Linked DNA regions of Homo sapiens. The protein of the gene in region 1 purifies or fractionates together with the protein of each later gene. This does not show direct contact. Each region holds a gene or a part of one and is shown on either strand. Other genes may lie near its edges.

Region 1 (7,821 bases):
CATATGAATGAACTGCAAGCAGCACGGATTAATAATTTTCTGGAATTCCTATGAGTTACAATGCCAACCAGTAGCAATTAAGATACACATTACAGAGTACTAAGAAACTAGAGCAGTATGTAGTAGGTACTTAAATAGAATACTGGAAAGAATGTAGCCTAATTTTAATTGTGCTTTAGATGGGCAAAAGCTAAAATGTTGTAGGAAAGACGACTAACTACTACCTCACTATTTCTTGTGCTTTAGAAATTTCCTTTGTATTTCTCTTAAAGTATCTTGCTTCTTCCCCAAATTGGTTTGCCGAGGCTAAGACAATATTTAAAAGTGTGTACAAATTAAGCAACTAAAACTTGGGATCTTCTGTTACTAATGCTATTTCCAGTCACTGATTAGATCAGTTACATCATCATATATGATATACTTTCCTTTAGAAGATAGGAACAAAGGGCTTTTTAGAGGTCAAGGCATGATGGGAGAGGTCTAAGAGCCAGTCTTAGAGAATTAAGGTATTTCTGAGATAGTGATTTTGTTCTATGTTTTGCTCCAATATGATGATTGTCACTGAGTCAAAGGTCCTCACAAACCCTGTAATAATGTCTAAAATTCTGGAAATAATATACATATGACTCAAAAGATGAAATAGAAATGCAGTGGTGTCACCTAAAATACCTTTTAAAATAATTCAGTTTATAGAATTATTTGCTAGTTATAGTTCACACCAGCAACTGAATTAAGTCACACAACAATCAGAAAAAATGCATATACTTAAAATAACTTAACTTAAATAATAATATTCATATAAAGTAATGCTGCTTCCATGATTCACTTTAATTCACTTTAGGAAAAAAAGGACATAAAATTAACAAAAATTCCAAATCAATTTAAGGAATTCTCAGTTTTTGTTTAATAAATACATTAATGTCAAAAAATCTACTTAGAAATGGTTGGAAAGGGGCTGGGTGTGGTGGCTCATGCCTGTAATCCCAGCACTTTGGGAGGCTGAGGCAGGTGGATCACCTGAGGTCAGGAGTTCAAGACCAGCCTAGACAACATGGTGAAACCCCATCTCTACTAAAATACACAAAAAAGTAGCTGGGCGTGGTGGCATGCACCTGTAGTCCCAGCTACTTGGGAGGCTGAGGCAGGAGAATTGCTTGAACTCGGGAGGCAGAGGTTGCAGTGAGCCGAGATTGCACCACTGCACTCCAGCCTGGCTGATGGAGTGAGACTCAGTCTCAAAAAAAAAAAAAAAAAAAAGGAAGTTGGAAAGGAGTATTTACTGATAAATATTACTATTTATTCAACATAGTTGGAAAACAAGCATTGCATAGTATCATGTAAAGCAGATCACTCCCTTTAAACGTTGGGGGCAAAGTTAAAAGCAAAAACAACTGAGAAACAACTTTTCATTTTTATGCTGACTTACAAAGTCCTCACATAAAAACTTATAGATTTAATCAACCCTCTTTGCCACTGTCTTTTGTGTCTTCCTTATAATCTTACTTGCTAACTAACTTTCACCCAACAGTTCAGTGCCCTTCTGCCAACCATAAGAAGGGACTAAAACCACCATATAAGGTTACATCAAGTTTGCCAACAATTTGGTAAATAGTATGACCAAAGTAATCACATGGTTGCATGTGGCCACCAAAATAACTGACAGTTTTTGATAACATGATTTTTGTTTAAGGATTTGTGTTTGCCCTACACAGGCTGAAAGTGCAACAATTCCAATATATAATCAGTTCATTTTATATTAAATCTGTAATTAATGCAGAGCAGTTCAACTTAAATATGGTACTTCAATACCACTTTATGCTACATTGTTTGATTTAAAACCCTGGTTTATCATCTAACTAAAACACAGGAATGATTTGCTCAGACAAATCACATCTGCTGAAGCTATCTTGTTTGTTTCTTGGACTGACATACTGAAAACCACAGGAATATTATAGGAAACATATCTACAAAATTCAAAAAAAATTATACATATTGATAATTTTTTAAAAATTATCAATTGCTTGCAAAACTAACCCAGCACAATCTGAAAACAATTAAAAAAAGAAATGAGGTTGCTTATGAAGGCTATAGCTTTGGTGACAACTTAGAACCAAATTAGATCTGCAGTTGATTCAGACATAAACAGTGTTCATGCCTGATGTTTCCGTTTATTTGCAGGGTTTTATGGCTACAGCATATTCTTCACTCATTGCACACATGACAGACACCTAGAAGGAAAAAAGCAGGCAAAACGTTATTCAGAAGACAATACATATAGAAGATATAATTAGTTCCTCATATATTGTATATTTGTGGATATTTTGTACATATGGACTTCTGAAAGGGGTATTCCAAAACAAGCTACTTTCTTTACAGTTTTCTAAAGCAGAATTTCTCAGAGTGGTTTGTAAGACAACTTCCAGGGAACAGGAAAAATAACTATAAATGTTTGAACACTTACTACCCGTTACATTTCTGAAAGTTGTAACGAAGACAGTAAATCTCCTTCACTCTTTAACATTCCACTAGCATCATTTCTTACCTGTAAGAATAGCTCAGGGCTGGGCGCCTTGCTCAGGCCTGTAATCCCAGCACTTTTGGGAGGCCAAGGTTGGGGGATCACCTGAGGTCAGGAGTTCAAAACCAGCTTGGCCAACATGCTGAAACCCAATCTTTACTAAAAATACAAAAATTAGCCAGATGTGGTGGCACGCGCCTGCAATCCCAGCTACTCAGGAGGCTGAGGGGAGAATCGCTTGAACCTGGGACGCGGAGGTTGCAATGAGCCGAGATCACGCCACTGCACTCCAGCCTGGGTGACAGAGGGAGACTCCGTCTCAAAAAAAAAAAAAAAGTCAGGTGCAGAGCTTCAAAACAAATTTGGGTTTGAGAGTAATGCTGATGTAGCAAAAATGAACTTTGATACTTTCTTTGATAATGAGTCTCTAAGGGTTTTATGGAAAACCTGCCTGAGAGATCATTTTCAACATTTTAGCAGTATTTTTAAACCACATTCCATATGTAGTATTTTATGTTAACTAGTTGAGGTCAAAGTTTTTATAAAATGGTTTTCAAAAATAATCCTTCTCTAAGTCTTTACCTGTACATCTTCACCTGCATTGTATTTTCCCTCTATTTCTTTGCCTAGTTCACCTTCTGGCAGTTTAAGATCCTCACGAACTTCACCAGTTTCTGTCAGCAGGGAAAGGTAACCATCTTGAATGCATATCAGCTATTAGAAGAAATTATATCATTTGTGCTGATTAGATTATATCCACTTCTGTGTAATGCTTACATAGTTAAATTGCAATTGATATTAATTCATATAAGTATACAGTAATATATTAATATTCTTGGTATTTAAAATGCTAAAAATATAAAAAATATAAAATATGTACAGAATGGAAATATAAGTTTACTCCTCCCGGTACTTCCCATACCCAATCTCTGCCTTGTTAAACAGTTTAGGTTTCTTTATAGTGTATTCCATTTATGTTCACAAAATAAATATAGTTGCTGTTTTGTTTTTTTTTTTAATCAAAATGGGATATTGGGCCAAGTGCGGTGGCTCACGCCTGTAATCCCAGCACTTTGGGAGGCCGAGGCGGGCGGATCATGAGGTCAGGAGATTGAGACCATCCTGGCTAACACGGTGAAACCCCATCTCTACTAAAAATACAAAAAATTAGCCAGGTGTGGTGGCAGACACCTGTAGTCCCATCTACTTGGGAGGCTGAGGCAGGAGAATGGCGTGAACCCAGGAGGTGGAGCTTGCGGTGAGCCAAGATCGTGCCCCTGCACTCCAGCCTGGGCGACAGAGCGAGACTCTGTCTCAAAAAAAAAAAAAAAAAAAAAAGAGATATTATAAGTACTTTACAGTGAGCTGTTTTGACTTAATAATATGTCTTATAAATACTTTCTAAGCAGAAAATGTAAACCTACCTTAGTTAACTACCACATATCTGCATGGACATACTATTACTGATTTAACCAATTTCACATTACTGGGCATAAAAGTTATTTTTGCTATTACAAACAATGCATTTTCTAATTTGAGTATGAACAAAATTAAGTGGAAAACTTTTGGTCTTCAGTCAACAACAACAACAACAACAAAATCCACTAGTGTATGGATAACATTAGTGAAAAAAAAAAACCCAGTTGTCAACCCAACCTGCAAAAAAGCACGGTTTTGATACCACTGAACTTCTTTTACTACAGGAATGAGTAAACAACCAACCTCCACTCATTTATTCTATTAATAAAAGCATGTACACTATTAGTATGCCTCGAATCCTAACATGTTTTATAAAAGGCTACCATCCAGAATACCAGCTACTAATATCTACAAAAGGAGTCAAAGACAATGGTCCTTGAACCCCTGTAACCACTATGATATAACCCAGGCATATCGTTGGGATTGCTCTCCTCCACATACACCATCTACCAAAACTGCCTATGGCTCTCCACAGAAACTCCATCTATCACAGGAAATTTGAGTTTTTATATGTCTAGAAATCTCAAAAATAAGAAATCCTACAGAGCTACAACAAAGACTTTTAACTAACCTCTTAGACCCTCAAATATTTGTGAGGTGGCTGGTAGAGAAGTGGGAGCAAGGAGGTTGAGGTAGAAGTGTAACTTTTTAAAAAATATATATATTTTTAAAGATGGGCGTCTCATTATATTGCCTAGGCTGGCCTCGAACTCCTGGGGTCAAGTGAGCCTCTGCTTTAGCCTTCCAAGGAGCTGGGACTATAGGTGTGCACCAATGCACCTAGCTTGAAGTGTAATTTTTAAACAACCACAACATTCCAAGACAAATCTTTCTGATTTCTGTTCTTTTAGTAATTCCCTAAAGCACAGCTTGTCTATTTCAAGAGTTAAATGTTCGTACTGTGCCACTAGTGACTGAAACACAGAAGCCAAATAATAATACTGATATTTTGAAAATGATGTATGTAATGGAGCTATTTTATTTTTTAAGAGTTAAGAATCATAAACTGTGGAATGAAATATATAAAGCATTTCAGATGTACAAATATATAAAACATCTAGTAAAACAATGCATTTACAAACATTAAACATTAAGATAAATTGCTATATTAAATACAATTAGTTTTCAAAAATAAAACTAAGCTACGAAAAACAAAAATAATGAGAATGAATTATTTAATCTTTGATATGGTTTGGCTCTGTGTCCCCACCCAAATCTCATCTTGAATTGTAATCCCCACATGTCGAGGGAGGGAGCTGGTGGGACGCAATTGGATCATGGGGTCAGTCTCCGCAATGCTGTTGTCATGATAGTGAGTGAGTTCTCTTCAAAGTGTTTAGCAGTTCCCCCCTCACTTGCTGTATCTCCTGCTGCCATGTAAGATGTGCCTTGCTTCCCCTTCGCCTTCTGCCGTGGTTCCTGAGGCCTCCATAGCCATGTGGAACTGTGACTCAATTAAATTTCTTTTCTTTATAAATTACCCAGTCTCAGGTAGTTCTTTATAGCAGTGTGAAAAAGGACTAATACAGAAAATTGGTACCAGGAGTTTGGGCCACTGCTATAAAGATGCCTGAAAATAAGGAAACAACTTTGGAACTGGGTAACAGGCAGAGACTGCAACAGTTTAGAGGGCTCAGAAGAAAGAAAGATGAGGGAGAATTTGAAACTTCCTAGAGACTTGTTGAATGGATTTGAACAAAATGCTGACAATGATATGGACAGTGAAGTCCAGGCTGAGGTGGTTTCAGATGGAGATGAGGAACTCACTGGGAACTGGAACAAAGGTCACTCCTGCCGTGCTTTAGCAAAGAGACTGGCAGCATTTTGCCCTGCCCTAGAGATCTGTGGAACTATGAACTTGAGAGAGATGATTTAGGTTACCTGGCATAAGAAATTTCTAAGCAGCAAAGTGTGCAAGAGGTAACCTGGCTTTTTTTGAAAGTGTACAGTCATATGCATTCATGAAGAGATGATCTGAAACTGGAGCTCATGTTTAAAAGGGAAGCATAGCATAGAAGTTTGAAAAATGTACATCCTGACCATGTAGTAGAAAAGAAAAACCCATTTTCTGGGAAGAAATTCAAGCCAGCTGCAGAAATTTGCATAAGTTACAAGGAGCTGAATATTAATAGCCAAGACAATGGGGAAAATGTCTCCAGGGCATTCCAGATATCTTCATGGCATCCCCTCCCAACACAGGTCCAGAGGCCTAGGAGGGAAAAATGGTTTCATGGGCCAGGCCCAGAGCCCTGCTGCTCTGTATAGCCTCGGGACTTGGTGCCCTGTGTCCCAGCCACTCCAGCTCCAGCTGTGGCTAAAAGGGGTCAAGGTACAGCTTGGGCTGTTGCTTCAGAGAGTGTAAGCCCTAATCCTTGGTGGCTTCCATGTGGTGTTGGGCCTGCAGGTACACAGAAGGCAAGAGTTGAGGTTTGGGAGCCTCCGCCTAGATTTCAGAGGATGTATGAAATGCCTGGAGGTCCAAGCAGAAGTCTGCTGCAGGGGCAGAGCCCTCATGGAGAACCTCTGCTAGGGCAGTGTGGAAGGGAAATGTCAGGTTAGATCCCCCACACAGAGTCCCCACTGGGACACTGCCTAGTGGAGCTGTGAGAAGGGGGGTCACCATCTTCTAGATTCCAGAATGGTGTACCATGTGCCTGGAAAAGCCACAGGCACTCAATACCAACCAGTGAAAGCAGCTGCAGAGGCTGTACCCTGTAGAGCCACAGGGGTGGAGCTGCCCAAGACCTTGGGAGCCTACCTTTTGGATCAGTGTGCCCTGGATGTAAGACATGGAGGCAAAGGAGATTATTTTGGAGCTTTAAGACTGAATGGCTACCCTGCTAGGTTTCGGACTTGTATGGGACCTGTAGCTCCTTTGTTTTGGCCAATTTCTCCCATTTGAAATAACAGTATTTACCCAATGCCTGTATCCTCATTGTTTCTAGGAAGTAACTGACTTGCTTTTCATTTTACAGGCTCATAGGCGGAAGGGACTTCCCTTGTTTCAGATGAGACTTTGGACTTGGACTTTTGGGTTAATGCTGGAATGAGTTAAGACTTTCAGGGACTGTTGAGAAGGCATGATTGTGTTTTGAAAGTGAGAACATGAGATTTGGAAGGGGCCAGGGACAGAATAATATGATTTGGCTCTGTGTCCTCACCCAAATCTCATCTTGAATTATAATCCCCACATGTCAAGGGAGGAACCTGGTAGGAGGTGATTGGATCATGGGGGCAGTTTCCCTCATGCTGTTCTCATGATAGTAAGTGAGTTCTCATGAGATCTGATGGCTTAAAAGTGTTTGACAGATCCCCCCTGCTTGCTGTCTCTCCTGCTGCCATATAAAACATGCCTTGCTTCCCTTTCACCTTCCTCCATGATTGTAAGTTTCCTGAGGCCTCCCCAGCCATGTGGAACTGTGAATCAGTTAAATCTCTTTTCTTATAAGTTACTCAGTTTCAGGTAGTTCTTTATAGCAGTGTGAAAATGGACTAATACAATCTTTTAAATTGAATTATTTATTAAAAAATCTTAAGTTCTATAGAAAAGTTGCAATAATGCAATGAAATCCCATATCCTTTACCTAGATACATCCATTGTTCACATTTAATCACATGTGCACTATTTTCTCTATGTATACATCCAATATATATATATATCATATATATTCTTATTATTTTTACAGAACTATTGAGAGTAAGTTCCAAAGATCATGATTCTTCAGCAATAAATACTTCAGTGCAACAGCCATGACTTTTCAGCAATTAAAACTTCAGTGTATTTTTCTCAAGAACAAGGATATACTCTTAGATAACAACAATTT
Region 2 (7,142 bases), on another chromosome or scaffold:
CAGCAGGACAGATCCTAGAGCCAATGGCTGCGGATACAACCGTCTCCCCGCCCAGACGCCACACACTCTCGGGGAACGTTCCCTGAAAGCCCCCACCCCTCCCTCCCTCCCACGCTCCCCTCACCCAACACACTCAGAGGAGTCAGTGCTTGGCAAAAATAATTTAATATTCCATCTGGGCAGCGCTCTGAGGTCTGCTTGTCCCTCCCTGGCCCCTGTGCCCTACCTGACCCACTCAGGGACCACCACCCTGTCCCTACCCAGGCCTCGGGGTGGGGGAGTCAGAGGCCCCCAGACCCTGTGTCCCATTCCTAGTGAAGCTGAAGCCACCATAACGTCAGCCTCTTCCCAGAGCCCCAGCTCTGCCCCTGGCTTCCCTCGCGATCCTCCCCTGGCTCCCCTCGCGATCCTCCCTTGGCTTCCCTCGCGATCCTCCCCTGGCTTCCCTCGCGATCCTCCCCTGGCTTCCCTCGCGATCCTCCCCTGGCTTCCCTCGCGATCCTCCCCTGGCTTCCCTCGCAATCCTCCCCTGTCCTGAGCCGGGCATCCCAGAGCCTCCCGCAGAGTCCCACCCCAAGCCTGGAAACTTCCACGCTACAGCCCTGCGCCAGGCCCCGAGGAGCAGTCAGGGGACTCAGGGAGTCACAGCACAACGGCAGCTCCTCGGTCCCAGACGGAGGAGGGGGACAGCAACCATGCGCCCAGCAAGACACAAGCGATGACACCGATTTACACACACCCGGTTTAGACGCCAAAGCTCTGCGGGGGAGGAGCGGCCCTCAAGAGTCCTCCGGGAGCTCCGGGTGAGGGTGGGGCCCTAGGAGGGGGCCCCGCGCAGCTGCTCCAGGCCGTCCGCGTACTGGAAGGCCCGCCCGGTCTCGTGCTCATACATGTCCAGAGCCACCTCGCAGCTCTCACGCACCACGCGCTCTGGGTCGTCCGCGTGAGCCTGCAGCGCGGCCAGGCAGGCGGGCCGGGCAATGGCGCCCAGGGCCTCCGCGCACTCGTGCCGCACCATGGGGTTCTCGGTGCATCGGGCCAGGGCGGCCGCCAGCTGGGGCACCGCCGCCTCGTGCTGCAGCTGTCCCAGGACGTAGCCGACCTCGTGGCGGAAGAGGGCGCTCCCACAGTGCAGACCTGCAGGGGAGAGGGACACTCGCTGGGGCCAGGAGGGGTGGGAAGGGGAGCTCTGTCTTTTCGAAGACATGGGGTCTTGCTATCTTGCCCAGGCAGGTCACAAAGTCCTGGCGATCTTCCCATCCCGGCCTCCCAAAGTGCTGGGACGACAGGCGTGAGCCACCACGCCCAACCTGGGGTGTTCTACCTTGAAGACACCCCTGCCCCCAGCCCCAGTGATTAGGGATGCCCGGGGGAACTGACCGCAGCTATGGGGGCGGGAAAAGCTGGGAGCTATGGGGACCAAGAGGGACGCTTGCACGGGTTCTTAAGAGGCCCCATGGGAAATGCTTGGGGCCAGGCCCGGGATGCCGTTCCCGGGGGCAGGCCGCGGCCCCACTGCACAGATGCCATCACTGAACCTCACAGCGAGGCACTGCCCAGGACCCCACCCCAGAAGCCCCTCCTCACCCTCGGCCAGCGCCAGGGCGGCCTCCTCGCCTCCCGCGTTGCGCAGGGCGAACATGGCGCGGTATCGCTCGAAGAGCGGCCGGGACTCATCCAGCAGCGCCTCCCGCAGGCGCCCCACGTCACGCTCCTCAGCCGGCGGGGCAGGGTCCACGGAGAGGTAGGGTCCCGCCGCCGGCTCCCCGCCGTGCTGCTGCAGCCACTCCAGCCTGCGCACGGCCAGCTGGCAGGTCTCGGCCACCTGCGGGGAGGGGGTATCAGGCAGCGGGTTGGCCCTGGGGGGTCGCAGGGGCCCTTCCCCACCCCCCGGGATGGCAGCTTAGCAGGGGAGAGAGACACTGGCAGGGTGACTAACCCATCATTCCAGGCAGGAAGTAAGCCAGCAGGGGTGGCTGACTTGTGAGTGACCGGGGGACTGGAGGGCTGGGGAGGGCCTCAGGGAGGAGGTGATGTGGAGGCAGAGACCTAAGCCAGCTTAGGGAGGGAATCAGGTGGAGACCCGGGGATGGGGAAGCAGCGGTGGAAAGGCCCTGAGGCAGGACCCTGCGGGAGGGGTGAGGGCCAAAGGAACATGTGCGGCCCCACCTGACCAGGTAAGGCCTGCGGGCCACTGTAAGGGCTTGGGATTTTGTCCTAAAGGTGATGAGATATCGTGAGAGCTTTAAGCATGGAACAGAACAGCAGAATTGAGTGTCACACGTACCCCCGGCTGCCCCGGAGGAGGAGAGACTGAGGGTCGGGGTGGGATGTGGACAAGAAGTGGCAGGGGAGAAAGGAACATGCATGTCCGTGGCGGCATAACTCATAACAGCTAAAAAGCAGAGACAATTCAAGCATCCAGCCACAGTGAGTGGACACAGCATGGGCCGTCCACACCACGGAACGTGACTCAGCCACAAAAAGGAATGACGGGCCGGCCGAAGCGGCTCATGCCCCTAATCCCAGCAGTTAGGGAGACCAAGGCAGGAGGATCGCTTGAGCCCAGGAGTTCAACACCAGCCTGGGCGACAGAGCGGGACTTCATCTCTATAAAGAAAAAACTAATAAAATAAAAATTTGTTTCATTTTTGGGCCAGGCGCGGTGGCTCACGCCTGTAATCCCAGCACTTTGGAGGCCAAGGCGGGTGGATCACGAGGTCAGGAGATCGAGACCATCCTGGCTAACATGGTGAAACCCCGTCTCTACTAAAAATACGAAAAGATTTGCTGAGCGTGGTGGCAGGCGCCTGTAGTCCCAGCTACTCTGGAGGCTGAGGCAGGAGAATAGCATGAACCTGGGAAGCAGAGCTTGCAGTGAGCCGAGATCGCGCCCACTGCACTCCAGCCTGGGCGACAGAGCGAGACACCGTCTCAAAAAAAAAAAAGAAGAAATGTTGGAAGGTAGCAGGAGATCTCTGAAGAGGTCTGGTGGGCCAGGACAAGGTATCAGAGGTAGAGGGCACTGGGTGGGTTCAGAGGGGTCTTGGCAGAGGGACTGGACGTGGGGGTTCAGAGAAAGGGGGTCAGGCCGGCTCAGGGGCTCAAGGCCCGGGATGGAAGCGGGTGAGCAAAGCTGGTTGTCGCCGTTTTGCCAAATGGGGCGCAGCAAGTGTCTGTCCAGATTGTCGCCCTCGCCTTCCTCATCCCTGGGGCATCCTTGGCCAAGTGGTCGCCCTGGCAACCAGAGATGGGGAGGGTCTGAGGCTGCTCCAGGTCAGGGCTGGGGCAGGGCTGGGCAGGGCTTCCCAGGGACCCGAGACTGGCAGGGAGACAAGCAGGGGCCTGGTTACCTCGATGACGGGGTCCGAGGAATACTGCTTCAGGATCTCCAGAACTTCCGGGTCCCCGATGGCCCCCAGGGCCTCCCCTGGGAAGAAGCAGCCGGAGAGCTCATGTTGGTGGGGTGGATGTGTGGAAAATGCCCGGCTACCTCTGGGACCGGAGGACACCCCTCCCAGGGCTCTGCCACTGTGGGGAAGCCCCGCCTCTGTCCACGGCTGATTGGAGCAGCAGTCGGTACAGGCTCCCCGCTGGACCAATCAGCATCCCCTCCCCAGAGCAAGGCACTGCCTGGAACCGCACCTGGCTGCCGCTCAGAGCAAAATGGACCCCATCCCGGCCCGTACCATGAGACAGGGAGACAAGTATATCCCTACAACTCGGGATCACAGCTGACAAGCAGCTCCAAGAACCCAGGAGGTCGGGGGTGCAGTGAGCTATGATCACACCACTGTACTCCAGCATGGGCGACAGAGTGAGACCCTGTCTCAAAAAAACAAACAAAAAAAATTCCCAAAACAGGCCGGGCCTGCCGGCTGGAGACTCCAGAATTTGGGGCCACTGGGGCTACACTTAGGTGGGTTCGGGTACAGGCGCAAGTGCAGGCGTCGCAAGCCCAGGTCGGAGCAAGGCTGGCGGCGGCTCCCCGTAGAGCCCTGGGTGCAGATGTTCCTTGAATTTTCTCAGAATCGAGCTCAAGGGCCCTGCCTGTGAGGCAGCTGAGCTGGTGGCTTTTGCCTTTCCTGAAGGTTGCGGTTTGCGTTTGTGCACCTGCCTGGCAGGCTCCCTCTGCCGGGAAAAGTCCCGTATGCGCCAACACAGGCTCTGTGTCAGGCACCTCCCACGCGCTAATTGCAAATGAGCTCACTGGTTACAGAAACACAGTCCCAGTGGCACAGACGCACCAACTACCTGCCTCACTGGTCTCCTTCGCTGTCTAGGTCCCTCGCTACAACAGTCCATTTTTTTTTTTTTTTTAGAGCTTCGCTCTTGTGACCCAGGCTAGAGTACAATGGCGCGATCTCCACTCACTGAAAACTCCGCCTCCTGGGTTCAAGTGATTCTCCTGCCTCAGCCTCCCAAAGTAGCTGGGATTACAGGCGCCGGCCACCACGCCCAGCTACTTTTTTTTGTATTTTTAGTTGAGACGGGGTTTCACCATGTTGGCCAGGCTAGTCTTGAACTCCTGACCTCAGGTGATCCACCCGCCTCAGCCTCCCAAAGTGCTGGGATTACAGGCGTGAGCCAATGCACCCGACCTGAACAGTCCATTTTTTTGAGACAGGGTCTCACTCTGTTGCCCAAGCTGGAGTGCAGTGGCATGATCATGGCTAACTGCAGCCTCAACCTCCCTGGCTCAAGTAATCCTCCTGCCTCAGCCTCCTGAGTAGTTGGGACCACACGCGTGAGCCACGATGCCCGGCTTGTATCTGTATTGTCACTGTTTTGTCTCTTACTACATGACAGAGCCTGGCATACAGTAGGTGCTCACTAAATGTGTGTCCAATGAGTGGAGTAAATCTAATATACATTAGGGATTGGGGATCTATGGCTTGTCGCTTGTTTTTATACGAGCAAAGAATGGTTTTTAAAACACTTTTAAGGGTTTAAGGCGGGGTGCGATGGCTCATGCCTGTAATCCCAGCACTTTGGGAGGCCGAGGCAGGTGGATCACTTGAGGCCAGGAGTTCAAGGCCAGCCTGGCCAACATGGCAAAACCCATCTCTACTAAAAATACAAAAATTACCCAGGCGTGGTGGCACACACCTGTAACGCTATCTACTTGGGAGGCTAAGGCAGGAGAATCACTTGAACCCGGGAGGCAGAGGTTGCAGTGAGCCAAGACGGCACCACAGTACCCCAGCCTGGGCGACAGAGTGAGACTCTGACTCAAAACAAACAAATAAATGGTTTAAAACAAAAAATCAAAGGGATAGTACTTCCTGATGGGTGGAATTTATATGAAATTCAAATCTCAGCATTTACAAATGAAGTTTGTTTTTTGTTTTTTCACAGACAGGATCTCACTCTGTTGCCCAGGCTGGAGTGCGGTGGCACGATCATGGCTCACTGCAACCTTGACTTCCCGGGCTCCAGCGATTCTCCCGCCTCAGCCTCCCAAGTGGCTGCGACTACAGGTGCATGCCACCATGCCTGGCTAATTTTTGTATTTTTTCTAGAGACAGGGTTTTGCCATGTTGCCCAGGATGGTCTTGAACTCCTGAGTTCAAACGATCCACCTTCCTGGGCCTCCCAAAGTGCTAAGATTACAGGCCTGAGCCACCGCCCCCTGCCCAGTTGAGGTTGTCTGGGCACACAGCCTTAGCCATTTGGTGACAGATGACCTGCGCTGGCTTTATTGAGTCGCTGTCTGGCTGCAGAGCTGCAGGTATTTACTATCTGGTGCTCTATGGGGCAGTTGACCACTCTGATATTTATCACCTGAGTGAGGAAGGGGACACGTGGGGTCATGAAGAAGTGAGGCAGGAGGGAGCAGGTGCCCGGGACACAGACAGGTGCTCACCTGCCTCATGGCGCACCATGGGCTCCTGACGGGTGTCTTGCAGCACGTCCACCAGCATGGGGATGGCGCGGGCATCCTGCATCTGGCCCAGGCAGTAGGCCAGCTCGTGCTTGAGCAGGGCGGAATCGTCATCGAAGGCCTGGCTGATCCATGCAATGGCGCCTGGGCCGCCGAGCCCACGCAGCGTGAACAGCGCCCGGAAGCGGGCCTGCAGGGGCTGCTTGGGGTCCACCAGCGTCTGCCCGATGGCATCCACCTCCTGCTCCGTCACCATCGTGCTGTCAATGGGTCCCGGCCTTCCACAACCCTGCTCAGGCTAAACCTGGGGACGCGGGGATGTAAGAACCTGTGGCAGAAAAATGAGAGCCCAGGTTAGAAGCCCCCTTCACCAGTGCGTTGTCTGTTCCTAGGACCTGGGTGGGGCAAATTCCTACCCACTGACCAACCTGAGCATCTACGCTGAAAGCTCAGCTCCAACCTCCCTACTAGCTGTGCAGCCTTCCGTAAGTTGCTTTCCCTCTCTGGGCCTCAGTCTCTGCACTGCCTCTCGCCTATAGGCCTATCAGAAATGACCTCCACTGTCTGCTCTCCACACAGCAGCCAGAGGGACAGCTGACCCCCAAAATGGCCCTAGCGATCCCCACCCAATATTCAAGGCTTTATATAGCGATCCCCACCCAATATTCAAGGCTTTATATAGTCCTCTCCCACTCTGAACAGGGCTGACCCATGTGAATGCCAAGAAGATGGAACAGAGCAAGACTTCCAAGGTTAGGGCATAAAAAGCACAACAGTCTCATCCTTGTTCTCTCTCTAGGGGAAGCCAGTGACCATGTTGTGAGGATGCTCAAGCAGTCTTTTGTAGGGGCCCACGTGGCAAAAAACTGAGCCCTCCCACCAACAGCCATGTGAGAGAAGTGGGCTGGCAGCAGCTCGTCCAGCCCCAAGCGAACCTTCAGATGATGCAGCCCCAGAGCGTCTCCACTGAGGCCTTACCAGAGGCCAGACCCAGAGCCAGCCAGCTAAGCCAGGCCCAGAGCAACTGTGTGCGACACTGTTTACTGTTGTTGAAGGTAACCAAGTATGTTTTTTTGTTTGTTTTTGAGACAGGATCTTGTTCTGTCGCCAGGCTGGAGTACGGCAGCATGATCACGGCTCACTGTAGCCTCGAACTCCCAGTCTCAAGTGATCCTCCTGCCTCAGACTTCCTAGTGGCTGTGTCTACAGGCACACACCAGCATGCCCAGCTAATTTTTTTTTTATTATTTGTAGAGAT

What was found. Proteins that work in one complex are often made in the same cells at the same time.
Region 2: the proteins of EIF5A2 (region 1) and DOHH purify together in Homo sapiens (affinity purification with mass spectrometry; 3 studies listed by BioGRID and IntAct, with this or other methods). This does not show direct contact.

What each region holds. Positions count from the first base shown.
Region 1 is NC_000003.12:170,891,192-170,899,012, forward strand, and holds part of EIF5A2 (eukaryotic translation initiation factor 5A-2), read right to left. Parts: intron 3,233-7,821; coding exon 3,101-3,232; intron 2,229-3,100; coding exon 2,169-2,228; 3' UTR 1-2,168. UniProt on the Homo sapiens protein: Translation factor that promotes translation elongation and termination, particularly upon ribosome stalling at specific amino acid sequence contexts.
Region 2 is NC_000019.10:3,490,675-3,497,816, forward strand, and holds the end of DOHH (deoxyhypusine hydroxylase), read right to left. Parts: intron 6,940-7,142; exon of another isoform or gene 6,684-6,939; intron 6,370-6,683; exon of another isoform or gene 6,213-6,369; 5' UTR 6,141-6,212; coding exon 5,867-6,140; intron 5,732-5,866; exon of another isoform or gene 5,557-5,731; intron 5,481-5,556; exon of another isoform or gene 5,441-5,480; intron 3,431-5,440; coding exon 3,354-3,430; intron 3,238-3,353; coding exon of another isoform or gene 3,097-3,237; exon of another isoform or gene 1,841-3,096; intron 1,826-1,840; coding exon 1,588-1,825; intron 1,138-1,587; coding exon 818-1,137; 3' UTR 150-817; downstream 1-149. UniProt on the Homo sapiens protein: Catalyzes the hydroxylation of the N(6)-(4-aminobutyl)-L-lysine intermediate produced by deoxyhypusine synthase/DHPS on a critical lysine of the eukaryotic translation initiation factor 5A/eIF-5A.